Linked DNA regions of Homo sapiens: all the other regions are linked to region 1. The links come from fine-mapping of genetic effects on gene expression. A gene starts in region 1. Each other region holds a variant in brackets. All regions are shown on one strand. Distances are between the middles of the regions. Region 1 holds the start of WDSUB1 (WD repeat, sterile alpha motif and U-box domain containing 1). Region 2 overlaps TANC1 (tetratricopeptide repeat, ankyrin repeat and coiled-coil containing 1). Region 3 overlaps WDSUB1 (WD repeat, sterile alpha motif and U-box domain containing 1). Region 4 overlaps WDSUB1 (WD repeat, sterile alpha motif and U-box domain containing 1). Region 5 overlaps BAZ2B (bromodomain adjacent to zinc finger domain 2B).

What was found. PIP is the estimated chance that this variant, and not a neighbour inherited with it, causes the effect.
Region 2: its variant is the best candidate, but not a certain one, in a credible set for the expression of WDSUB1 in sun-exposed skin (GTEx, PIP 0.81).
Region 3: its variant is the best candidate, but not a certain one, in a credible set for the expression of WDSUB1 in whole blood (TOPMed, PIP 0.50).
Region 4: its variant is the best candidate, but not a certain one, in a credible set for the expression of WDSUB1 in subcutaneous fat (GTEx, PIP 0.79).
Region 5: its variant is the best candidate, but not a certain one, in a credible set for the expression of WDSUB1 in whole blood (INTERVAL, PIP 0.65).

The regions. Positions count from the first base shown.
Region 1 is chr2:159,283,839-159,288,944 of GRCh38, forward strand. It overlaps WDSUB1 (WD repeat, sterile alpha motif and U-box domain containing 1), which reads right to left and starts at 2,865. Exons shown (of 11, transcript NM_001128212.3): 1 at 2,745-2,865. RefSeq lists silencers at 2,699-3,138, 2,825-2,994.
Region 2 is chr2:159,211,022-159,216,127 of GRCh38, forward strand. All of the region lies in intron 19 of TANC1 (tetratricopeptide repeat, ankyrin repeat and coiled-coil containing 1), which reads left to right. Among named protein-coding and RNA genes, the nearest start is that of MIR6888, 27 kb to the left of the region's middle. RefSeq lists an enhancer at 326-940. The variant C/T (reference allele first, on the strand shown) is at 2,822.
Region 3 is chr2:159,257,097-159,262,202 of GRCh38, forward strand. WDSUB1 (WD repeat, sterile alpha motif and U-box domain containing 1) reads right to left here. Exons shown (of 11, transcript NM_001128212.3): 6 at 2,714-2,747; 7 at 849-889; 8 at 662-768. Among named protein-coding and RNA genes, the nearest start is that of WDSUB1, 27 kb to the right of the region's middle. RefSeq lists a silencer at 2-170. The variant G/A (reference allele first, on the strand shown) is at 2,075.
Region 4 is chr2:159,239,915-159,245,020 of GRCh38, forward strand. The region is part of intron 10 of WDSUB1 (WD repeat, sterile alpha motif and U-box domain containing 1); the gene reads right to left. LOC105373716 (a long non-coding RNA gene) reads left to right here. Exons shown (of 2, transcript XR_002959431.1): 2 at 1-1,150. Among named protein-coding and RNA genes, the nearest start is that of WDSUB1, 44 kb to the right of the region's middle. The variant A/G (reference allele first, on the strand shown) is at 2,446.
Region 5 is chr2:159,360,026-159,365,131 of GRCh38, forward strand. All of the region lies in intron 27 of BAZ2B (bromodomain adjacent to zinc finger domain 2B), which reads right to left. Among named protein-coding and RNA genes, the nearest start is that of WDSUB1, 76 kb to the left of the region's middle. The variant C/G (reference allele first, on the strand shown) is at 3,016.

The DNA of each region.
Region 1 (5,106 bases):
GGATCTCCCTCTGTCATCCAAGCTTGAGTGCAGTGGCATGTTCTCAGGTCACTGCAACTCCCGCCTCGCGGGTTCAAGTGATTCTCCCACCTCAGCCTCCCAAGTAGCTGGGATTACAGGCATGTCCCACCACGCCCGGCTAATTTTTTGTATTTTTAGTAGAGACCGGGTTTCCCCATGTTGGCCAGGTCTTGAACTCCTGGCCTCAAGTGATCCGCCCACCTCAGCCTCCCAAAGTGCTGGGATAACCAGCGTGAGCCACCGTACCCGGCCAAGGGAGCTCTGTTTTAAAGGACAACCTGTTACCTGGGATAAGAACAATTTGGAGAAAAAAAAATCTATAAGACTATAACCTCTGATTCTCACAACCACCGTTGTCATACCAATAAATTTCCACAACTCCTCAAAAAGAACCTTCAAACTGTCAAATAACTTCAAACTGATTTGATGTTGAGCTTTCAAAACCTAAGGTGTTTATTTCACCTTTGAAGCCTTTCTCATAAGGAGTTCTCAAAAATACCTCACTCCAGATCTGCTCATCTCAACTCAAAAAGTATTTTCTATTCTAATAAACTATCTTAGCTGTTCCCTTCACAGGATGGAGCCAAGGCTATCTGCTCCGCCTTTAAAATCAAACTGTAGGATTTGCTCTTAAAAAAAAACAACAAAAGTCTCATTGAAAATTTATTAATAAGTGACCATGTTGAAAGCTGTCCTATCATGGTTTGTCATCCTGTCTGATAAATAGTAAAATTATACAAAAGACTTGAGGTGAGGAACCACCTCTGAATGAATCAAGGAAACCAAGAAAAGAAAACCTAAGAAAGTGTCAAAAAATGAACTTAGCCAGACCACGCTCAAGAACAAATTTACAAATTTAGAATAAAATCAAACTCATCATGGCAAACAAAATCCTATACAGTCTTATGTAATCAAAATCCTATATAATTCCCGCCTGCCCACTTCTCAGATCTCAACTCTGGCCACTGTCCCTCTCTTCTTTCCAGCCTCCTTGGCCTAACAGTCTTCCGTCTCCATAAAGCGGTTTTCTCAAGCTGAAATGTTCTTGCCTCTGCTCTTGGGATCCTATTTGTCATTTAGATCTCAATTTCAGTGTCTCTCCTCAGAGACGGTTTCCCTATTTAAAGTAGCCACTCCCTAGGCTAGCACATCACTCTATATTCTCAGCAATTACCACCAGCATCGGATATTTGTTAAATTGTCTCCTCCGACTAGGATGTAAATCCCAAAGGAGTAGGTACTTTGCCATCTTGCTCATTTCTGTATCCACACCATGTAAAACTGTCAGGCACCTAATGTACTTAAATAAATATAAGTTGAATATTTATTTTGTTCGAGCCCAACTGAGTTCCAGCCTTTAAATAATCCATATGTAATATGAAATTAGAAAATCTACCAAGACTAAATATATATACACACACAGAAACATAACTGACGGTGGAAAACTGGTGTCAAGTGAGGCAGAATCAGCTCTGAAAGGGGCAGGTATAACCTTGACTTGTAAAATTGATAATCCTTTGTCCTAGTCTTATTTACGGAAACACCTCTACCAAAGAAAAAAAAAGTCTGGGCGCGATGGTGCACACCTGTAGTCCCAGCATTTTGGGAGGCCGAGATGGGTGGAACACTTGAGCCCAAGAGTTTAAGACCAGTCTGGGCAACAAGGCAAGACCCCATCTCTCTAAAAATAAAAATAATTAGCTGGGTGTGGTGGCGAGCACCTGTAGTCCCAGCTACTCGAGAAGCTGAGGCGGGAGCATCACTTGAGCCCCGGAGGTGACGCCGGCGGTGAGCTGTGATTGCACCACTGCACTCTAGCCTGGGCAACAGAGCAGGACCCCATCAATCAATCAAACAAATATTAAGGCATAAGGAGCATGCCTTTCCCTATCTTCATCTTATCCTTTTAGGATAAGTTCAGCTTCTTTTCTTCGAACATAAACTCCAATAAAGCCTAAAAACCAAACACGAAAATTTCTGGTAGACTATCCCTGTACTGCTGTCTTGAAAACAATCAAGACCAGGTGGTGCTTTCTGGAGAGCTCGCAAATCCCAGCTGTGCAAGTGCGCACAGGTGATTTTCCAAACAAACTCCGGCTCCCAGCCCTCTGCCGCACTCAGCTCCCTTTGCAAGTTCCAGGGCATTCAGTGGGAAGTACCGAGGCCACCGTCAGCTGAACAGTTTGTTTTGAAAAAGCTCTCAGGCCTACCCAGGACCTGCCTTGGGGTAGGGGGGGCGGTGTGGGCGTTCCCTCGGGCCTCGGCTGTCACGCGAACAGTAAATTCCCGGGCACACCAGGTCAGTTGGCCAGCGTAAACACATGAATCCCATCTCATTCAAAGCAAACCCGAAAGGTGTCCAGCGCTCCCAAAATAAAGTCCGCCACTTACACCCCCCATGCACGAAAGACCAGGAATGTGCCCCCCTCTATGAGCGGCCGGGCCTCTGTGGACTGAGCGACCCCAGGCAAGAGGGAGGCCTGGGAGGCAGGGAGCTCACCCGCAAGGGGCTTCCTTCCACCCGACGCCGACACGCCCGCCCTAGCCCCGGGCCAAGGGTGCACGAACCACGCCTCGCCGCACTCAAGGTCCCGGTTGGGCCCTGCTGCGCGGTTAGAACCGGGAAATGGAGGGCTCAGACGCCCCGCGCGAGCAGGCCCAGCCGCGCTTCCCCACCTGCCGCCACCGCCGCTGAGCCGGCCCGTGGGCGCGGCCGCTCTCACCTGCAGGAGCGGGGGCGCGCGGGATCCGCCTTCAAGGTGCCCACGGGCGGTGCGGGTCACGTGCCGCGCAGGTGAGGCTGGCGGGGCGGGCGCCGGCGGAGACCCAGAGCAGAGGGAACAGGCCCCGCCCCCGAACGCCCGCGGGGACCCAGAGCGGAGGGAACAGGCCCCGCCCCCCGAACGCCCGCTGTGACCCAGAGCGGAGGGAGTAGGCCCCGCCCCGCGAAAGCCTGTGGAGACCCAGGGCGGAGGGAACAGGCCCCGCCCCCGGGACCGGCCCCTGAGGCGGCGCATGCGCGCTCTTCCGCCCGGACTGCGAGTTCCTCCCCAGCTTCTGGCTCCTAGGGTCAAGGCGATTTCAGGCTTGGAAAGGGACTTCCGTCGCAAATCTTTCTGTTTTTGCTAAAGCTGCGGTCGCAAGGCCTAGTGATCGCCTGAAACGTCGTTTTAAAGGGGCGTTGCATGGAATGTTCGGCCATCCCTGCTGAAAGTTTTTACCTCTTTCTCCAGTTCTCCACCCTGCACTGTGTACTCCGAGGCCGGTCTCCCAGATTGGCCTTCTCTATTTCGGCCACCCTGGGCGGTCCGTGACTTGGCGTCTTCTGCCCTCGCCTCCTCATTCGGGTTCCCCTAGGGGTCTCTCCCGGGCAGGCTGCCTGCCCCGGGCCCCAGCCCTGCCGTTGGGTGGGTATCCTGAGCTCACTGGAACCCCGGGCGCCTTTTCTTCAGCCTTTCCCAGTGCGTCCCACTGGCTCACGGTAGACTGGTTTCCACGTGTCATTGACTACAAAGTGGCCCTGCCAGTGCTTTTTGAGATAAAAATTATCCAGAAAAAAAAAAGTTCCTGAGCAAATTACCACTTGTTAACTAAATGCACAACATAGTGTGGGACTATGTTCAGATGAAAATCAAAGATACAGAGAGCTTTTATTTTTAATCCATGAGGAAACATTAAAAATATATCAGCCTGTGGAGACCGAAGTTACATTTGAAGAGTAATGACCTAAAATGCTCACATTTAAAGATGAAATTGAGACCGTGGGAAACTATTTGCAATGAAAAAGATTAAGGGGAAAGGGAAGATTAAAAATTAGGATTTTGTGAAGTTCTTGTTAATTTTTTAAAATTAGCGGAGTGCATCATGATTGAGACTTTGAACACCAAATTCCATTCCAAAGTATTGCCAAAACAGTATTTTTCTAAAAACAAGTTTTTGATTGTATAAATAATAGAGCTCTCTGTAGGAAACACAGAATATATAACAGGAAAATAAATAGTCAATAATTACACCCCTCAGAGATCACCCACTCAGAGATAACATTTTCTCTCAGTCTTTCAGAAAAACTAATTTTACAAAAAGTCCTGGAAACTGCCTTTTTAAACAAACTTGTGTCATGAGCTGTTCCCATGTCTAAAATTTCATTAGCTTTTTTTTCTACATAATGGTCTACATATAAACATACCATAAATTATTTAACATTTTCCCTGTTGCTGGATGGTTTCAACAATTTTGATCTTAGTGTAGATAATGCTGGATTAAATATCTTTGTACCTAAATCTTTTTCTTTTAGCCTCAATATATTACCACGTTATGTACATAAATCTTTTTCCATATTTATGAATATGTACTTAGGATAAAAATTGAAATGGAGGCCAGGTGCGGTGGCTCACGCCTGTAATCCCAGCACTTTGGGAGGCCAAGCTGGGTGGATCACCTGAGGTCAGGAGTTCAAGACCAGCCTGGCCAACGTGGTGAAACCCCATCTCTACTAAAAATAGAAAAAAATTAGCCAGGCATGGTGGCACGCACCTGTAATCCCAGCTACTCAGGAGGCTGAGACAGGAGAATCTCTTGAACCCAGGAGGCTGAGGTTGCAGTGGGCAGAGATCTCCCCATTCCACTTCCAGTCTGGGGGATAGAGTGAGACTTTGTCTCACAAAAGAAAAAAAAGGAAATGGAATCACTGGGCATAAAGGTGTAGACAGTTTTAATAAGTATTACCATACTGCTCTTCAGAGAGGTTGTACAGTTTACACTCTCAGCAATATGTAGTTGTGTTTGTCTCTCCACTTTCTTGTCAAACTTGAGGGATACCTTTTTTATCTACACTAATTTGTGTGTGGGTTTTTTTGTTTGTTTGTGAGATGGAGTCTTGCTCTGTCGCCCAGGCTGGAATGCAGTGGCAGGATCTTGGCTCATTGCAACCTCTACCTCCCAGGTTCAAGTGATTCTCGTGCCTCAGACTCCCAAGTAGCTGGGATTACAGGCGCCCGCCACCGCGCCCGGCTGACTTTATGTATTTTTAGTAGAAACAGGGTTTCACCATGTTGGCCAGGCTGGTCTCGAACTCCTGACCTCAAG
Region 2 (5,106 bases), 73 kb before region 1:
CACCACTCCCGGCTAATTTTTGTATTTTTAGTAGAGGCAGGGTTTCACCATGTTGGCCAGGCTGGTCTTGAACTCCTGACCTCAGGTGACTTGCCCGCCACAGCCTCCCAAAGTGCTGGGATTACAGGCATGAGCCACTGCACCTGGCCAGTCAGGTTGTTCTTAAAATGAACGTCTGCCATTACAAACCTACTTGCCTTCTCAAGACAGGACAGTGTTGCTGAGGTATGTGCTTTCATGGGAATCTAATTCACAAATGCCATCTTGTTAAGGATTTTACAACTAGAAGAAATTGTGTCCAATTTGAGTCCTAAAAAGTGCCATCTGTTCACGTTGATTTTTGAGCTCCCATTTCATACCAAGTCTTTTTTTCTCCATCTTTGTATTTCATTGGCCAGAAGGCAAGGTACTGCCCATAGCAAGGCATTCTCTTCTCCTGCCCTCCCCTGCCCTCTTTTCCTTCGGGTCAGGTGGGGTGCATTAACCCTCACTGGAGCCTGGTGGGCAGCACCAGAGGTCGGCCTTTGCAGCAGAATAGCTGGAATTCCTGAGCATAATTTAGCCATGGTTCTGTTTGCTTAAGCATGTGGGTGGCTATTCTTCAGTCTCTCTTGTGTTCGTAAGTCCCTGTGGCTGCTAAAACTTGAGATCCCCTGAAAATGGCAGAGCCTCAGGAGTTCGCCGTGATGGCCCCAGAATACTCAATCTGCTTAGAAAAAGGAAAACACAGATCTTGTTGTCTGTCTGCATCATTTGTAAACGAGAGCCTTGTCAGGAATTTGTGTGTAGAACGTGATCTGTTTTAAGCCTGAGCATAGTCTGCCTGTGCTTACAGGTTTTTAGTTGCCTCAAGAGGGAGTCACCAAATACATAGCAAGGGTTGTGAAGGAAAAGGAGGACAGGGTCCAACCCAGTTGCCATGCCCGGGGTGGCGCACTCGCCCCTTGTCAGTTGCTCCAACTTGTGGTTTCTCTGATGCCCCTGTGAAACAGAGGTCCCTATTTTTAGTGCTGGACTGTCATTTCTGATGTGCTGCTGTTGCAAAAATTCAGTAGCAGCTTTAACAGAAATCCTGATTTAAAGGCCCCGTTTATAATGTAGATGAAGCTTGTTTACCAAATAAAAGAGCAGAATGCTGTGGTGGATTGGCTGCTTCAGATCTCATCAAATGGAAGAGTCCTGTGTTTATTCCTTTGCATGGCATCATGCAAAGGCCCTGCCTCTGCGTGGAGCCCATGCGTCTTTGTTTTGATTCATTCCTTCTTCTGGTCAACCAGGGAGAGGAGGAAGAGGGAGTTGTTCCTTGCCTAGAGGAAAATGGCAGAGCAGCAGCAGATCCAGGTAGTGGTTCAATACCCAGATCTTCTAGCGTAAGAATCATGCGTGTTCAGGGTCACGATCAAATCAATCCAGAAAATGTATATTGTAGGAGAGGAAGAAATCACTTCATCCCTACCCTTCACAGTTCTTGGGACAGACTGCAGCAACGAAAGACAGATTAACACAAACAGAAGTTGAATAGTAGGTATATCTTGTGTTGTATCCATGGGAGATACCCAGAGAAATGAGTCAGTGTCCAAGAGGTGGCTTAGATTTTAGGCTTAAAAACCATCATCCCGGCTGGGCATGGTGGTTCACGCCTGTAATCCCAGCACTTTGGAAGGCCAAGGCAGGCAGATCCACGAGGTCAAGAGTTGGAGACCATCCTGGCCAACATGGTGAAACCCTGTCTCTACTAAAAATACAAAAATTAGCCAGGCGTGGTGGCACATGCTGTAATCCTAGCTACCCAGGAGGCTGAGGCAGGAAAATGGCGTGAACCCAAGAGGCGGAGGTTGCAGTGAGCCGAGATTGTGCTACTGCACTCCAGCCTGGGTGACAGGGCGAGACACCGTCTCAAAAAAAAAAAAAAAAAAAAAATTTCCCTGAAACAAAGATAAATGGTTTGGGGAAGGCCAGTTATGGGGAGGTACCCAAGAAAAGCAGTTAACAAAGGTAAGGTTTGAGAGCCAGATTCTCCACTGATAGAAATCTCTAGTGATGTAGTCATCCTTCTCTTCTTGGTAATAGAAAGGAAGACACCCATGAATTTTGTCTTACAAGAGGATAACTTATCTGTTTTTGGGATATCTCCTGTGTCTGCAGTCTCTCAAAATAATCAACTCAAAATCTTTATGCGAAAAGGCATATTTTGGGGTGGCATATTCTGGTCTCTCACAATATAAAAGTACCCCAAGCCTTATGTTAGTAGGAATCATTAACGTTATCATCGTGGCAGGAAGAGACTACAGCGAGAATTCCTGGGACAGCAGGGACCAGAACTGGTTTGTGTAGATTCTCAGAGTATAGATAGGATCACATTGGACCCTGGTTTCCAAACATTTTAGGTATGGGAACCCCCCCACCTCTGTCTCAGTGCCTCGGTATGTAAAACTGACATAAATACCATTCTGCTAATGGTATTTATGTCAGTTTTACATACCGACACGCTGAGATGAACTTTAAATGTCTGCTCAGTAAGGGCAATGGGCCTGTTTGCATAACACAAATATGAATGGTACCTGCAGTCCAGATCAGCTGTAGCATCCCTGCCCTTCAGTATTTTGTTCTGGTTGCACTGTCTTGAAAGAATCCACTTCGTCATCCAGATCAGTGATGCAGATGGCAATATTTGTTAAGAACGGCTCTTCCTGTAGTTCTAAGAAATTATCTGACTAGAAAGATGACAGGAAAAGCACTATTATGAGACTGCCCAGTGATAAGTTATTCTGGGCACCCATGGTAATGCGCTGGGCCCCAAGGTATTAGAATTTAGTAACAG[C/T]GGCCGGGCACAGTGGCTCGCACCTGTAATCCCAGCACTTTGGGAGGCTAAGGTGGGCAGATCACCTGAGGTCAGGAGTTCGAGACCAGCCTGGCCAACATGGTGAAACCCCATCTCTACTAAAAATATAAAAATCAGCCGGGCTTGGGGGCTCGTGCCTGTAATCCCAGCTACTTGGGAGGCTGAGGCAGGAGAATCCCTGAACCTGGGAGGTGGAGGTTACAGTGAGCCAAGATTGCACCACTGCACTCCAGCCTGGGCAACAGAGCAAGATCCTGTCTCAAAAAAAAAAAAAAAAAGGGGGAATTTAGTAACAGCAAATGTTGTGGTGGTTGGGTGGGGGGTGGGTATTGTGTTTGTTACAAATTTTTAAATAAGCTGCATTTAAAAAATGAAATTTGGACTAAGCATTTGCGGAAACTTTGGCCTCTTCATAACTCTGGTCAGGCTCAACTCTTTAGCTTTCTGCAGGGGAAAACTGAAGCTCACAGACCTTGAGGATTTGCCAAGGTCATACATAGCAACTGGGACTAGATCATATCTTCAGGTGTCTTGTCTTGTGTTACATCCTGGACCTTGGGACTCCAGAGCTGAGCAGTCTCTCACCTGCTGAGAACCATGGTGCACAGGCCCCCTGTGCCCTCCACTAGGGTGACTCACTGAACACACATGTTGGTACCAGCACTGACTTCTCATGAGGACCTTGGCTCGGCTTACCAGCTACCTCCTTGGAGAGCTGCAAGGGACTATGTCCCAGTGCATGTGAAGGACTGTTCTACCACAGAGAACTGAAGTTGTTACGCCTCTTGGAAAAATATTGTAGCATCAGGTGTCAGAGCATCTTGACAGCTGGCAGATGCCTGCTCCCTCTGGTGCTCAGATAAGGCCTGGGGAGCTGGGAATCAGCTCCTGACTTGTTACCTCCTCTGGTCCACCACCGCTTTAGTGCTGTCTGCTGCAAACATAGATTAAGAGGCTTGAGGACATCCAACAGGACAGAGCCCTTTAAATGCATTTTTCTGGAGAAATGTGGTGGCCTCCTTTCTGAAAAGAAACAGGCCATCATCTGGGTGGTGAGGAATAGGGCGTGGAACATTCGGAATCAGCCAGGCCTACAGACTGGCCCTGAGCTCCCTGGGCTGCCATGTAAACTCTTATGAGGGGCTGGTCTGTGATGAGGCCACTGAAGAAGTTCCCCTCACTGCTGAGGTCCACACTGACTGAGGACCAGAAGCGAAGTGAGAGCTGCCTTACCGTTCTGGAAGGATGGAGAAGGGGATGCTTTCCCCATGGTCATCCTGGACCTAACCCTTACATTCTTAGGTCCACAAGACCAGGACTGCCTGCTGCCCACGCTTACTCCCTCACTTTCCGGTGACGAGGCCCCAGATAGAACGCAGAGCTCAGGTGATCCACGGGAGAGATGTGGCTACCTCTCTGTGACATGTGAAGAGGTGAGGTTGCCAGCCACACTGCACCATGGCCCTAAGGACAGTCGGTAGAGACTGTTCAGTAGGAGAGCTAGTTTCTTGCAGGGAGATAACAGGTTTGCCGCCTTTTGTTTATGTGGCTCCTGGAGGTTAAACCATGGCCATGCTGACTGGTGTGACCAGAGGAGGTCACAAATCAGCAACAGACTCCCAGCTTCCCTGGGCATTATTGTAGGCACCAGAGGAAGCAGGCATCTGTTAGCTGCTCTGAGGGGTGTCAAAGAAGACAGGCAGACCAAGGGGTGTGTGCAGACACCAGCATCACTGAGCCCTTGGCTCCCGGGGCTTAGCTCTGAGACCCGAGCTCAGAAGGTGCGCAGGAGACAAACCAGGTCCCGCCCTTGCTAATCGGAAGCCCACAGATGACCCTCTCCCGAGATGGCTGTCGTGGCACTCTGCTTTTGAACTATGTATGAACAAAATCCTCTGTGTGTTTTCTTTTGGGTTTGGTTTCTTTCAATCCTTGTTAAGTTTGTGAGACTGACTTGGTCAGTCGTGTTTAGCCACATGGTGTTTATTCTTGTAGACATGTAGTGTTCTGCTGATTGACTATGCCACTTTCTTGAAGCTTGCTAATGATGATGATGATGGTTGTTTGGATTGTTTGCAGCCCGGGGTGCGGTGAGCATTTTTGCTTGTGTTTCTGGTACACCTTGAGAGTGCCTGCAGGGTGCATCTCTGCAAGTGGGTTGCTGGGTGGGGAGATACACCTGTCTTCAACTTACTCGTAGCGTCAGCCTGTTTTCCAGAGCAGCCACCATGCACCTTTCTGCTAGCAGGGTGCAAGCTTTCCTG
Region 3 (5,106 bases), 27 kb before region 1:
CTCAGGTGATCCTTCCCACCTCAGCATCCCAAGTAGCTGGGGCCACAAGTGCACACCCCCATGTGTGGCTAATTTTTGTCTTTTTTGTAGAGATGGGGTTTCACCATGTTGCCCAAGCTAATCTCAGACTCCTGGGCTCACGCAATCCATCCACCTCGGCCTCCCAAAGTGCTGGGATTATAAGTGTGAGCCACCATGCCAGGCCAAACTATTTTTAAATGACATTAAATTTGGATGTATACTTTATATTGATAAAAGCAATGTGAATAACCTGTCAAATGATTTACTAACTTTTTTTTTTTTTTTTGAGATGGAGTTTCACTCTTGTCGCCCAGGCTGGAGTGCAATGGCACGATCTCAGGTCACTGTAACCTCCGCCTCCCAGGTTCAAGCGATTCTCCTGCCTCAGCCTCCCGAGTAGCGGGGATTATAAGCATGCACCATCATGCTGAGCTACTTTTTTGTATTTTTAGTAGAGACAGGGTTTCACCATGTTGGCCAGGCTGGTCTCGAACTTCTGACCTCAAGTGATACACCCACCTTGGCCTCCCAAAGTGCTGGGATTACAGGTGTGAGCCGCGGTGCCCAGCCCGATTTACTAACTTTCTGACCCTAATGGTGAGTGGGGTTGAAATGAGTGAAAAATGATGTCCTTACTAACCTTGGCAAAGTGTTTCCAGGTCAAATTGCCAGATGTTCACTGTTTTGTCCATTGAACCAGTAGCAAGTAAAAGGGTATTAGGTGCAAAAGCACAAGTTGTGACATACCTAGTTAATAAAAACAACTATTATGTATCTTCTGACTAATTTTTAAATTATATTAATACAAGGTGAGGTTAAGTTCAGACCTGGTGTGCTGAGTCAATGTGTGAAGTATATTCTCAGTATTCTGAAAAACAATAAAAACAGCTTTAAATTTACTCAAGTAAGAGTAAAGTTACTGATGAAGACTCATTTGACATAAATGGGTTGTATACTAAGTGGATATATTAATATTTATTAGTAACTAACATAAGTTGAAACTTTACTCAATGAATAGCAGAAACAGCATCTGTAACAGCATTCTCAGGTACTTACTTCACTTTTTGTCAATTATCGGCATTATTGTCTGCTAGCCACCTCCTTAGAAATTTTTAGTACAGTAGACCCTTGGCATTTGCTCATCTGTTTGAACCTACTAATAGTAACCTAAACATCTATTACCTGAAATAATTCATATTTTTGACTATGGCATTTGACTTGTATACATTGCAGGACCAGTGAGTAGAAATTAGTCCCTTGGCCGGGTGCAGTGGCTCACACCTATAATCCCAGCATGTCGGGAGGCCGAGGCAGGTGGATCACTTGAGCTCAGGAGTTTGAGACCAGCCTGGCCAACACGGTGAAACCCCATCCCTATTAAAAATATAAAATATTAGCTGGCATGGTGGCACGTGCCTGTAGTCCCAGCTACTTGGGAGGCTAAGGCAGGAGAATTGCTTGAACCCGGGAGGCAGAGGTTGCAGTGAGCCAAGATCGCACCACTGCACTACGGCCTGGGCAAAGGAGCAAGAGTCTGTCTCAAAAAAACAAATAAATAAATTAGTCCCTTAGAGTACACTAAGGTGTCCATCTAACATTTTAGGTGTATTTAAGTGGGACTCATACATATTTTACAGAGACAATTTAGTGTTATAATTGTTTTTGAGAATGTAAAATCTCATGAAACGTTCATGAGAAATATTAAAGATTTACCTCACCTAGCTTGAGTATTCTTTCCCATTTCCTGCCAGAACACTCAGTGACTCGAACTTCTGTGTGGAAGACTAGCTTACATCACTTGCTTAACTCGCTACCCTTTGATTACTTATATCTCCATTTATTTGCTGGCATAGCTACAGCATTAGGAGGCTCCACTCAACATTTTCTTCTTTTGGACAATATTTTTTTCAACTACTTTATTTTTGAGACAGGGTCTCACTCTGTTGCCCAGGCTGGAGTGCAGTGGCACAATCTCGGCTCACTGCAACCTCCACCTCCGGGGTTCAAGCCATCCTCTTGCCTCAGACTCCCAAGTAGCTGGGACTACAGGGAC[G/A]CGCCACCACGGTCAGCTAAGTTTTTGTATTTTTGGTAGAGATGAGGTTTCACCATGTTGGCCAGGCTGGTCTTAAACTCCTGGACTCAAGCCATCTGCCTGCTTCAGCCTTCTGACATGCTGGGATTACAGGTGTGAGCCACTGCACCCGGCCACAACTTGGTCTTTACCCACACATGGATCAGTAAAAAACTCCCATTTTCCAAGTCCATGATAACCTATCCTTTCTTATGCCTCTCCCTAAATCCAGCCAGGACTCTAAGAATGGTAGGTCACTTTCAACCATATTCACCAAAAACCCTAGGGTAAACATTCATCCTTTGCTATTATGGAAGCCTGGTGTAAAAGTTTAATAATTGATTGTATGTGATGTTTTGAACACTGGTGCTCTTTAAATATGTATAGTTTATGATCACATTTAAAATCTATCCATCTTAAAATCATTACTGAAATATTTAAGGGCTTGTTGCAGAACCAATATCTTACTTGCGTAACTATTTTAGCATTTGTGAAAATATTTATGTTCTTAGTCATACTAAACAGAAAAAATATATACTTTTTCTACCAGGCCTAACTTGAAGTTCAGTAGTCTAATAAACATAACTTTCATAGATCACCACAAGATTTTTAAATACTTACAGTATCATATACTATGACAGACTTATCCACTGACCTTAAAAGAAAATAAATTATAGGTGAAAAGTTCTATAAAAACAAAGTACAGCATTTATGTAATTAGTATTTTTAAGTAATTTTAGTAACTTTTCTAGAAAAGACAGATATTAACATACATTTAGAATGCAATCCTTTTGTTCATATGCATGAAAACTTTAATTCAAAAAACTACACGTGGCCAGGCGCAGCGGCTCACGCCTGTAATCCCAGCACTTTGGGAGGTTGATTCGAGCGGATCATGAGGTCAGGAGTTTGAGACCAGCCTGGCCAACATGGTGAAACCCATGTCTACTAAAAATACAGAAAAAAATTATCCGGGCATGGTGGCGTGCACCTGTAATCCCATCTCCTTGGTAAGCTGAGGCAAGAGGATGGCCTGAACCTGGGAGGTGGAGGTTACAATGAGCCAAGATCATGCCACTGTACTCCAGCCTGGGTGGCAAAGTGAGACTCTATCTCAAAAAAAACAACATGCCATATATAAAATTTAGAAAATTATAAGCTTTATTAAAACAATAGTATATACTATTTACGCTACATGACCATGAACAGAACAAGCATCTCTGATATATAAATAAAACACGACTCTATAACAAGTTAGTAACTGAATGGGAAAAACCACAAGGAAAAGCTATTATTTGCTACTTGGTTTTGTTTCAGATAGCACTATTCTTTACCATTGATAAGGCGTGCCTTAAATGCTAATCAATGTATATATGTTTTGATTATGATCCATTTTTGAAAATTATAATTCTAAACTTGATGTTGACTACATGATTCCTTGTAATGGTATAAAAATTAAAAGCAGACATCTGGGGTTATGCTAGCAAAGAAAAAGAACATCACACACACAAAAATACAACATTATAACAAAATGAGTAATTTAAAACAATGGATAAATATGCCTCTATCTGGCATTTCTACCCCCCTTGGAAACAGGCTTTTATGCCAGAACAATATACACTACAAGGTGAAAAAACATCTGCAATACAAGTGGTACCACACTCTGCAGAACATTAATATTTGTACTTATTAAGGGAGCTGATCACAGTCTGACCACAGGATTCACACCTATTAGCTTAAAATTCCTTGTTCAGTAGACCCTCCAATGTTGATGATGGATACTGACTACAGAATCTTTGTCATAAGTTCAAAATAGAAATTATACTTTAAAAGTTCAAAGATATAAAATAAAACACAAGAACTTGGGAAGCATATACTGTCAGCCCTCCATATCCACAGGTTTCCTATCTGTGAATTCAACCATGAATCAAAATATTCAAGAAAAACATAATAAATTGAAATAGGAAAAAAATAACAAAAAATAATACAAATAAAAATACTGCAAAACTATTTACATAGCCCTTACATTGTATTAGGTATTATAAGTAATCTAGAGATGATTTAAAGTATATGGATAATGTGTGTAGGTTACATGCAAATATCACACCATTTTATATAAGGGACTTGAGCATCCACAGGTTTTGGTATCCAAGGTAGCAGTCCTGGACCCAATCCCCTGCAGATACCAACGGATAACTGTAATGCATTCCAGATGCAAAAAGAATTATAGCTTTCAATGTTAAACTGCATCCAAAATACAGTGAGAAATAGTATTGACAGCTAACACTACGTGAGTATGTATGTGATGGACATAATTTACAGACACTTTTATTTAATCCTAAGTTCTTCAAGGTACAAGTTCTTATTTGTGAAATATCTGAAATTCTTAGGCCAAATTCTGCTATTTTGAGCATCCTTAAAACACACACACAACTAAAGAGTGATGTCAGCAAGATGGCAGAGTATAACTTCCCATGCTTGTCCCCTCACAGGGACATCAATTTGAAAAAGTATCCACACACACACAAAAATACTTTCATAACAGCTAAGAAAACCAGGTCTCCAGCTATAGCTACATGGCTGGGGGTCAGGAGCATGTTAAATATTACTTTTCAAGATTATATGATGAGATGAAAGGAAAACTGGTCAACTGAAACTCATATATATATATATATATATATATATATATATATATATATATATATATATTTTTTTTTTTTTTTTTTTTTTTTTTTTTTTTTAAATAAATGAACTGGTCATTGGGTGAACTGGCTTTTGGTTAATTGACCTAGAGCCCAGTTCTGCTTAAGCCTGACTTTTCTAAAGGGATAATTAGCCAAAATTTCATCTGGAGCTGGCTAGAGCCCAGCCATGCTAAGCTTACAAAGAAAATGGTTCTCTCATCTGGCCCCCATTACACTGTCTCAAATAAAATCCTCATTGGTACCACAAATCAAAAACAAAACCCCAAAATTAAAAAGAAATCCCACTTTCCTAGACTACCACCAGAGACA
Region 4 (5,106 bases), 44 kb before region 1:
CATGCTTTCTGCAGAAACTGTTACCTGTGACTGCCTTTTGCTCTTTTTGAGATATATTTCACACCATAAAATGCACCCATTTGTGGTTCTTGGTATATTTCAGAGTTGTGTATCACTCCATCAATCCCATACCCATTAGCAGTCACTGCCCCCGCAGCGTGTGGCCACCTCTAACTGACTTTGTCTCTATGGATTTGCCTGTTTTGGGCATTTCATATAATGGGAATCATACACTATGCAGCCTTTGGTATAGGGCTTCTTGCACTTACCATAATTTTTCCAAGGTCCATCCTCTACATATTTGTGCATTTTTATGGCTCGATATTCTCTTGTATGGCTATACGACATTTCATGCATTCACTTGTTGATGGACATCTGGGTTGTTTCCACCTTTGGGCTACTAATAATGCTGCTATGCCTGTACAACTTTTTGTATGATTATGTGTTTTCAATTCTCCTGCCTATAGACTTAGGAGTGGAATTGTAATAACTTTCTGAAGAGCTTCCAGACTGTTTTCAACAGCAACCACACATGAAGGTTCCATTTTCTGCACATCCTTGCCAACACGTATTTTCCTACTTTTTGATTCTAGCCATCTTAACAGGTATGACATGGTTTTGATTGGCATTAATGACACTGACCGTCTTTTGAAGTGCTTATTGCCAAACAGCATATCATTAGACTGTTCCAGGGCACCATTACCTATATTAACTTCTTTAATCTGCACAACAACCTTATGATGTAAGATATTGTTAGCATTCCTATTTTATAAATGAGGAAACTGAGGTATGGCCTGAATAACTTTCCAGGGTCACACAGGTAGGGAGCAACTGACCTGGGATTTAAACCCAAGCAGTGTGGCTCCACAGACAATGCTCTTACTCTCCCTGTACACGGGACTTCCAGAAAGGACAACTATAGTAACTGAAATTTTAAAAAAATCTCATTGGACAGGTAAACAGCAGTTAGACAACTGCAGGAAAGACAACTGGTAGGCAGGTCCAAGAAAAACACCTAGAAAGGCTTAAGAGAGAAGCTGCAGGGGATGAGAATGGCTGAAACATTTCCAGAACTAGTGAAAGGCATGAAAGAGAAAAGTCTACGATGACAAATAGGAATTAGACAGTATACTTGAACTGCAACTGAAAAGCATACCTGAAGTCAGAGTATAACCAAGTATAACCCAACACGGTGAAGGCTCTAGAGAAAAAGCAGAGTGGGCAGATCAGGTTTAGGAGGTTTTTATATGTTCAGAATAGACCTGAAAGAAATAATCTAGCTGGAACACCTACCAGTGCAGGGCAGGCATTTCTACTCTTTAGCCCCAGTTAACATTTAGTTTTTAGGTTTTCTGTAATTCTAACCAAAATACCACTTTGTGTTGTAACATAAGATGATTCTAAAATTTATCTTGGCTGGGCACATCACTTGAGGTCAGGAGTTCAAGACCAGCCTGGCCAACGTGGCAAAACCCTGTCTCTACTAAAAATACAAAAATTAGCCAGACATGGTGGCACGTGCCCATAATCCTAGCTACTAGGGAGGCTGAGGCAGGAGAATCGCTTAAACCCAGGAGGTAGAGGTCTCAGTGAACTGAGATCATGTCACTGCATTCCAGCCTGGGTGACACAGTGAGACTCTGTCTCAAAACAAAAATTATCTTGACAGCTAAATTGGCAAAAATGACCAAGCCAAATTTTTTTAAAGATTGGACATAACTAAAAAGGTACAGCAGTGCCTATCAGTATTAGGAATGTATACAAATGTACCTGTAAATACATGACTGGGGATGTTTTCTTTTTTCTTTTTTTTTTTGAGATGGAGTCTCACATTGTCGCCGGGGCTAGAGTGCAGTGGCATGATCTCGGCTCACTGCAACCTCTGCCTTCCGGGTTCAAGCAATTCTCCTGCCTCAGCCTCCCAAGTAGCTGGATGTTTTCTATAGAGTCACTTGTGGTAAGCTGGCAAAAAAATGGAGAAAGATGCCTATAAACAGAGTAAGAGTTAATTTCGGTAACATCCATACCAGGAAATGCTATCCTGCAGATAAGAATGAAGCATGTACTTCCAAATACACTGACAAATGGTGTTCTCTCTGATACACTGTTTGATACACTGTTGATAAACAAAAGCAACTTTTATTTATTTATTTAGAGATGGAGTCTCGCTCTGTCGCCCAGGCTGGAGTGCAGTGGCACGATCTCGGCTCACTGCAAGCTCTGCCTCCTGGGTTCATGCCATTCTCCTGCCTCAGCCTCCCAAGCAGCTGGGACTACAGGCACACGCCACCACACCCAGCTAATTTTTTTTTAAATATATTTTTAGTAGAGACGGGGTTTTACCGTGTTAGCCAGGATGGTCTCGCTCTCCTGACCTCATGATCTGCCCACCTCGGCCTCCCAAAGTGCTGGGATTACAGGCGTGAGCCACCACACCCGGCCAAA[A/G]GCAACTTTTTAAAAATATGCATCAGGCTGGGTGAGGTGGCTCACACCTGTAATCCCAGCATTTTGGGAGGCGGGCAGATCACCTGAGGTTGGGAGATCGAGACCATCCTGGCTAACAAGGTGAAACCCCATCTCTACTAAAAATACAAAAAATTAGCTGGGTGTGGTGGCACATGCCTGTAATCCCAGCTACTCTGAGGCAGGAGAATCGCTTGAACTGAGGAGGCAGAGGTTGCAGTGAGCCAAGATTGTGCCATTGCACTCCAGTCTGGGCAACAAGAGCGAAACTCCCTCTCAAAAATAAATAAAGTATGCATCATAACTCATTTGTTATAAGACACTATAAATGGATGGAAAAATAACTAGAAGGATACACCTAAACCGTATCATTGCTACATGAGAATACAGAAGAGCCCCCATTTTTAAAATCGCTTGTCTGTTTTTCACTAAGCCCGTATTACTTTCATAATTTAAAAGTATGAATAAAAATGAGGTACAAGAATGCTGAAATACAAACAGGTCCTGAAAATTTTTCTGAGGCAATTAGTCCAATAGATATAAAAATATACATAAGGAAAAACTGAAAAAAGATGTATTCTGAATATTCAGAAAAATGTAGGTGGGAAAAGGAAAGTAGAAGAGAAATTAGAATTATATGCTGGCAGGAATTTCTCCACACATGTATCAATCATCAATAGAAAGAAATTGGTTCAATTCTGCTATTAATGATTAGGATTGGGTTTTTTAAAAAAATTCAACTGTATGTTTCCCATAGGAACACCTATAAAACAAAGTAACACAGGAAGGTTAAAAATAAATGAGTGGTAAGTCTACAGGGATTACGCTAAGAAAAAAAAGCCACTTGAAAGCTGTTTTACTACATGATTCCACTGATATACCATTTTTGAAATGGTGGACAAATTAGTGGTTTCCAGGGGCTGGGGTCGGAAGACAGTAGGGAGATCATGGGTCCAGTTATAATTTGGAAGTGCTCTGTCTCAACTGTAGTAAGGTAATCACAAACCTCTAGACAGGATAAGACTGTGTAGAGCTTCACACACACAGATAAGTACAAGTAAAACTGGGGAAATCTAAGATCTGTGGGTTCTAGCAATGTCAATATCCTGGTTGTGATATAATAGTATCATTTTGAAAAATGTTACCAGTGGGGAAAGCTGGGAAGTGCACAAGGTATATGTCTCTATTGTTTCTTATAACAGCATCAATTAAAAATAATAAAATTTAAAAATAAATGTGTGGTACCAGAAAGGTTAAAATCAAAGACATAGACAATAGGAAAAAGTAAGGCTGTGAAGCAATTAGAATTCCTATACACTGCTGGTGGGCATAGAAAGTGATTTAACCACTCTGGAATGCTATTTATGTATACCTTCTCCTAGGAATATAGCCAACAGAAATGCATACATATGTTAACCAAAAAAACATGTACAGAAAGGTTCATAGCAGCACTATATATAACAGCCAACAATGCCCATCAACAGAATGAATTATATGCACACAATGGACTTCTATACAGAAATGAAAATTAAACTGCTTTGTGCAACAATATAAATGAATCTCACAAACATGTTTAAGAAGCCAGACCCAAGAGAGAGACACGTTATGATCCAATAGCAAACTAATAAAGCAATCTATCCTATTATAGTCTAAAGGAGGAAAAAAAATATGTCAATAGCCTAAAAATTCTCAGCAAACTGGAGATAGAAGGGAACTAACTTGATAAGGGGAGCTAATTATCATACTTAATGGTGAAAGTTGAATGCTTTCCCTCTAAGTGCAGGTGAAGGTAACAATGTCTACACACCACTTCTTTTCAACATTGTACTGGAAATTCTGACCCAAAATAACATGAAAAGAAAAAAAGGATTCATACAAATTGGAAAGAAAGAAATTACTTACATGACACACTCATGTATGAAGAAAGTCTATTAAGCTTCTATTAAAAAGCTACTAACAGCCCTACATATCTAAGGGGTCTGCATCCACTGATTCAACTAACTGCTGATAAAAAAAAAAAAAAAGCCAATACAGTATAACAGCTATTTACAAAGCACTTACATTGTATTGGGCATAAGTAAGCTAGAGATGATTTGAAAGGGGACAGGATGTGTGGTGTGTAGAGAGCATCCACAGACTTTTGTGTTGAGGGAGTTGGTTACTGAAGGATGACTTTACTACTCAATGTAGCAAGGTCACAAAGTCAATATATAACATTGTATTTCTATTTGCTCAAATTGTACAGTTATAAAAATATGAGCTACTGGCCAGGCTCAGTGGCTCACACGTCTTATCTCAGCACTTTGGGAGGACAAGGCAGGAGGATGGCTTGAAGCCAGAAGTTCAGGACCAGCCTGGGCAACAGAGAGACCCCATCTCTACAAAAATAAAAATTTTTACAAGTTAGCCGGGCATGGTAGTAGGTGTTTGTGGTTCCAGCTACTTGGCAGGCTGAGGCAGAAGGATTGCTTGAGCCCAGGAGGTCGAAACTGCAGTGAGTTAAGATTGTGCCACTGCATGCCAACCTGGGCAACAGAATGAGACCTCATCTCTAAAAAGTAAAAATTTAAACATTTTTTTAAAATAAGCTACCTAAAGATAATTTTGACAAAATGTGCAAAACCTGTAACAGAAAAGAAGACC
Region 5 (5,106 bases), 76 kb after region 1:
TTCCCTTTGAATACTGGCACAAGACAAGGATGCCCTTTCTTACCAATCCTATTCAACATAGTATTGGAAGTTCTGGCCGGGGCAATCAGGTAAAAGAATGAAATAAAGGTCATTCAAATAGGAAGAGAGGAAGTCAAATTGTCTCTGTTTGCAGATGACATGATTGTATATTTAGAAAATCCCATCGTCTCAGCCCAAAATCTCCTTAAGCTGGTAAGTTATTTCAGCAGTCTCAGGATACAAAATCAATGTGCAAAAATCACAAGCATTCCTATCCACCAATAATAGACAAACAGAGAGCCAAATCATGAGTGAACTCCCATTCACAATTGCTACAAAGAAAATAAAATACCTAGGAATCCAACTTACAAGGGATGTGAAGGACCTCTTCAAGGAGAACTATAAACCACTGCTCAAGGAAATAAGAGAGGACACAAACAAATGAAAAACATTCCATGCTCATGGATAGAAGAATCAATATTGTGAAAATGGCCATATTGCCCAAAGTAATTTATAGATTCAATGCTGTCCCCATCAAGCTACCACTTTCTTCACAGAATTAGAAAAAAACTACTTTAAATTTCATATGGAACCAAAAAAAGGTCCCATATAGCCAAGACAACCCTAAGCAGAAAGAACAAAGCTGGAGGCATCACACTACCTGACTTCAAACTATGCTACAAGGCTACAGTAACTAAAACAGTATGGTACTGGTACCAAAACAGATATATAGAACAGTGGAACAGAACAGAGGCCTCAGAAATAATGCCACACATCTACAACCATGTGATCTTTGACAAACCTGAGAAAAACAAGCAATGGGGAAAGGATTCCCTGTTTAATAAATGGTGTTGGGAAAACTGGCTAGTCATATGCAGAAAACTGAAACTGGACCCCTTCCTTACACCTTATACGAAAATTAACTCAAGATGGATTGAAGACTTAAACGTCAGACCTAAAACCATAAAAACCCTAGAACAAAACCTAGGCAATACCATTCAGGACATAGGCATGGGCAAGGACTTGGTAACTAAAACACTAAAAGCAATGGCAACAAAAGCCAAAATTGACAAATGGGATCTAATTAAACTAAAGAACTTCTGCACAGCAAAAGAAACTATCATCAGAGTGAACAGGCAGCTTACAGAATGGGAGAAGATTTTTGCAATCTAGCCATCTGACAAAGCGCTAGTATCCAGAATCTACAAAGAACTTAAACAAATTTACAAGAAAATATAAACAACCCCATCAAAAAGTGGGTGAAGGATATGAATAGACACTTCTCAAAAGAAGACATTGATGCAGCCAACAAACATATGAAAAAAAGCTCATCATCATGGGTCATTAGAGAAATGCAAATCAAAACCACAATGAGATACCATCTCATGCCAGTTAGAATGGCAATCATTAAAAAGTCAGGAAACAACAGATGCTGGCGAGGCTGTGGAGAAATAGGAACGCTTTTACACTGTTGGTGGTAGTGTACATTAGTTCAACCATTGTGGAAGACAGTGTGGTGATTCCTCAAGGATCTACAACCAGAAATACAATTTGACCCAGCAATCAATCCCATTACTGGGTATATATCCAAAGGATTATATATCATTCTACTATAAAGACACATGCACATGTATGTTTATTGCAGCACTGTTCACAATAGCAAAGACTTGGAACCAACTCAAATGCCCATAAATGATAGACTAGATAAAGAAAATGTGGCACATATACACCATGGAATACTATGCAGCCATAAAAAAGGATGAGTTCATGTCCTTTGCAGGGACATGGATGAAGCTGGAAACCATCATTCTTAGCAAACTAACACAGGAACAGAAAACCAAACACCACAAGTTCTCACTCATAAGTGGGCGTTGAACGATGAGAACACATGGACATAGGGAGGGGAACAACACACACTGGGGCCTGTCGGGGGGGTGAGGGTCTGGGGGAGGGATAGCATTAGGAGAAATACCTAATGTAGATGACGGGTTGATGGGTGCAGCAAACCACCATGGCAAGTGAATACCTATGTAACAAACCTGTATGTTCTACACTTGTATCTCAGAACTTAAAGTACAATGAAACAAAAGAAAACAAAACAAAAAACAAACAAATTAAAAAAAAACAGTGAACTGGACTGGAAAAAAAAATCCTTGGTTTTGGCTGGAAGGCCATAGGGGCTTTCTTCTTTCCCACTTCCCTGAGAGGCAGCAGCAGGTCAGAAGGCCTTCAGCTGAGGTCAACACTGTTCTCAGCGTCCTCCCTATGTAGACTTTGACCCTTGATATGCATATGTCCTAGCACTGTTTCTAAACCCAAAGGTCCCTTGATAATGTTTATCATTACTCAGAAATTAAGTGCTTTCTACTCTTTCTCACACTAATGCATACAGGGCAAGGTGTGGGGTACAGTGTTTCGTCTCTTGGAGTGCTCTTGCTGCATGTCCAAGTCCTGTGGAATCATTATGGAGGCTGGGAATCCTGTGTACGGTTACTTCTTTGCTTGTAGGTTACTCTCACTAACAAACTTTGCTGCTATTAGCACCATGTGTGTTAGTGGTTTGTGTAACCATCTTGTACTACAGTTGGTGCCCAACAAAGTCCCGATGTCATGGCTTTCTGAAAGAGGAGAACCCATGGGTCAAAGAATTTCTCCTGGGGACAGTGGTAATTCACTTGGCAGTTAGGATGGTCTCAGTAGCTACGCCTGAGAATGGCAGAAGCCCTCAAGTGGTAAAGAGGGTTTCCAGTGGCTTGAAATTAAGTTCTATCTCTTCTCCTTATCAGCTTAGAGATTTTCAGGAGTACAAATTGGTAGGGTGCACTAGAAAGGGTGTGGTAGTCTCTCTAGAAGGGAAGGTGGGGCAAATTCCCACTGTTTATCTGTAATATGAGGCAACTGGTCCTGCTGTATGTGAAGCCAGTTACTGTGAGGCACGGTGTACAGGAGCCTGAGTGAGAACACCAGCAGGAGGAGATCCAGCATTATACAGAGCAAGAGCAAGACTCTTATTAG[C/G]TCCACTACTGTAGGGATAGTAGAGGCTTGGCCTGCTAATTTGCATGGTTAGGAGACAACAGTGTTGTTAAGGGAAGCTGAGTAAAAGGAAACACATGACCTGGTTAAACAATGAGCAGTCTGGGTTGACTAATAACACTGGGGCTGATGTTGTAACCCTGCTTCTAAACTGGATGCTTGGTAGCATGGGTAATACGTATTACCATTGGGGTGATTTTCCTGCCACTTGAATGTGAAATGGACTAGATCCACAGATAGTGTAGTTACTCTAACACACTCTGAGACAACTGGCTGTGTTAGCGTAATTATAAGAAAATCCAGGGTTTGAGTAGAGAATCCCTGACAACATGCTCTTGGTGCAGAGAATGTTGGATGACCGAATCAGAGCAGGTCCTCCTAAGTGGACAACTGCTTTGACTTATTCCTTCATCTGGGAGGCAATGTTGGACATGAAATAGTTCTTTTTAGGTCATACAAGCCCCACAGCAGAGGCGGAAATGGAAAGAGACAGGGTCTCATGAGATGCACAGGTTTCTGCCCAAAATATAAAGAAAGAAGGAACAAAAGAAGGAGTAGACCGATAGGCTGAACTCAGGCAATCTCCCTCACACCAATAAATGTGATATTGCTCATAAACAGAAGGAATGATAAGACAGAAATTGAGAGACGGCCTAATTCTTGAGTGTGGGAATGTAGTCCTATTCAAAAAGTTAAAAGACCCACTGAGACTGTGGAAAAGGGACATGTGAGATGAAACATGATACTGAATAGTTTACAGACTTGAATAATTATTGGGAGAGGTGGAGTCACCAGAAGATTAGGTGAAGAAGGTCCCTGGGGAGGACGAGGGCTATTGAGCTTCATCCACACAAACTGATAAGATCTAAAGGACATAGAGACAGGGAGATACTCTGCATTATCTTGACTCTGGAAGTGGCATTGCTGGTGGGAATGCTCCTAGTCATCAGCTCCACTTTGTGAGTTTGAGTCAACTCTAGAAGCCAAGCTTCTTTGTTCCTAATCTGAGCCCTTTCAAACTCAAGGAGAAATACAGGTGGGCTCAGTCCCCTTTACTCTCTTCCAAGGGATCCCTAACCATGTACCCCAGATGATTATGCTGGAAAAGAGAAGAGCCTCCAATATTTACGGGTTTGCTAGAAATGGAGGACCAAGTATCATAGCTCCAGACTGCAGAAGAGCTCTGGTAAACAAGTTCCTCAACTGGGGTTTGGAGTCCATGTTACCTATGGCTGAAAGATTAGAATTACAATCACTGCAACGGCTTTTGGACCTTTTGCGTGAATTCTAGTTGTTTCTTTATCAGGGTGGGGTAATTAAGTCCACATGTCAGTTGGACTTTTTTTCTTTTCGAGACAGGGTCTTGCTCTGTCCCCAAGGCTGAAGTGCTGTGATGCGATCGTGGCTCACTGCAGCCTCGAACTCCTGTGCTTAATTGATTCTGCCACCTTAAACTCCTAAGTAGCTGGAAGTATACCTGGCTAATTTTTCTGTAGAGATGGGGTTCCACCATGTTACCCAGGCTGGTCTTGAACTCCTGGGCTCAACTAATCCTCCCACCTCAGCTTCCCAAAGTGCTGGGATTACAGGTATAAGCCACCATGCCTAGCCCTTAGTTAGACATTTTTTGTGACTTCTGTTAGTAGCTTCTATAACTGTTGGCCAGGTATGTTGCCAAAACCCACCTGTACTTACAAGGTCGGCAGATGTTGTGTGACACTATACTTACAAGGTCGGCAGACGTTGTGTGACAGTGTTGCACACCTAGAGGTGAAACAGGTTGCATTTCTTATACAAGAACAGACTCAGGCAGGGGTACTGCACAACACCATTTCACAATTTAACAACCCCGTTTGCCTAACTCTGTTTGACACTAGTACTGCAAGTGATCTATGACTGGTCTCAGGCAGAGACTCTGATGGCATGTGTTAGTTTTTGGGTGTTTGATCTCCTCTAGCTAATGAATGGTATACACCTTTGGGGTTACTGTGTCTCCTGCATTTGCAGATAACATACATATTATCAAGACTTAGGTATATTATTATATATTGGGGTTTCTAGATATGATACAAT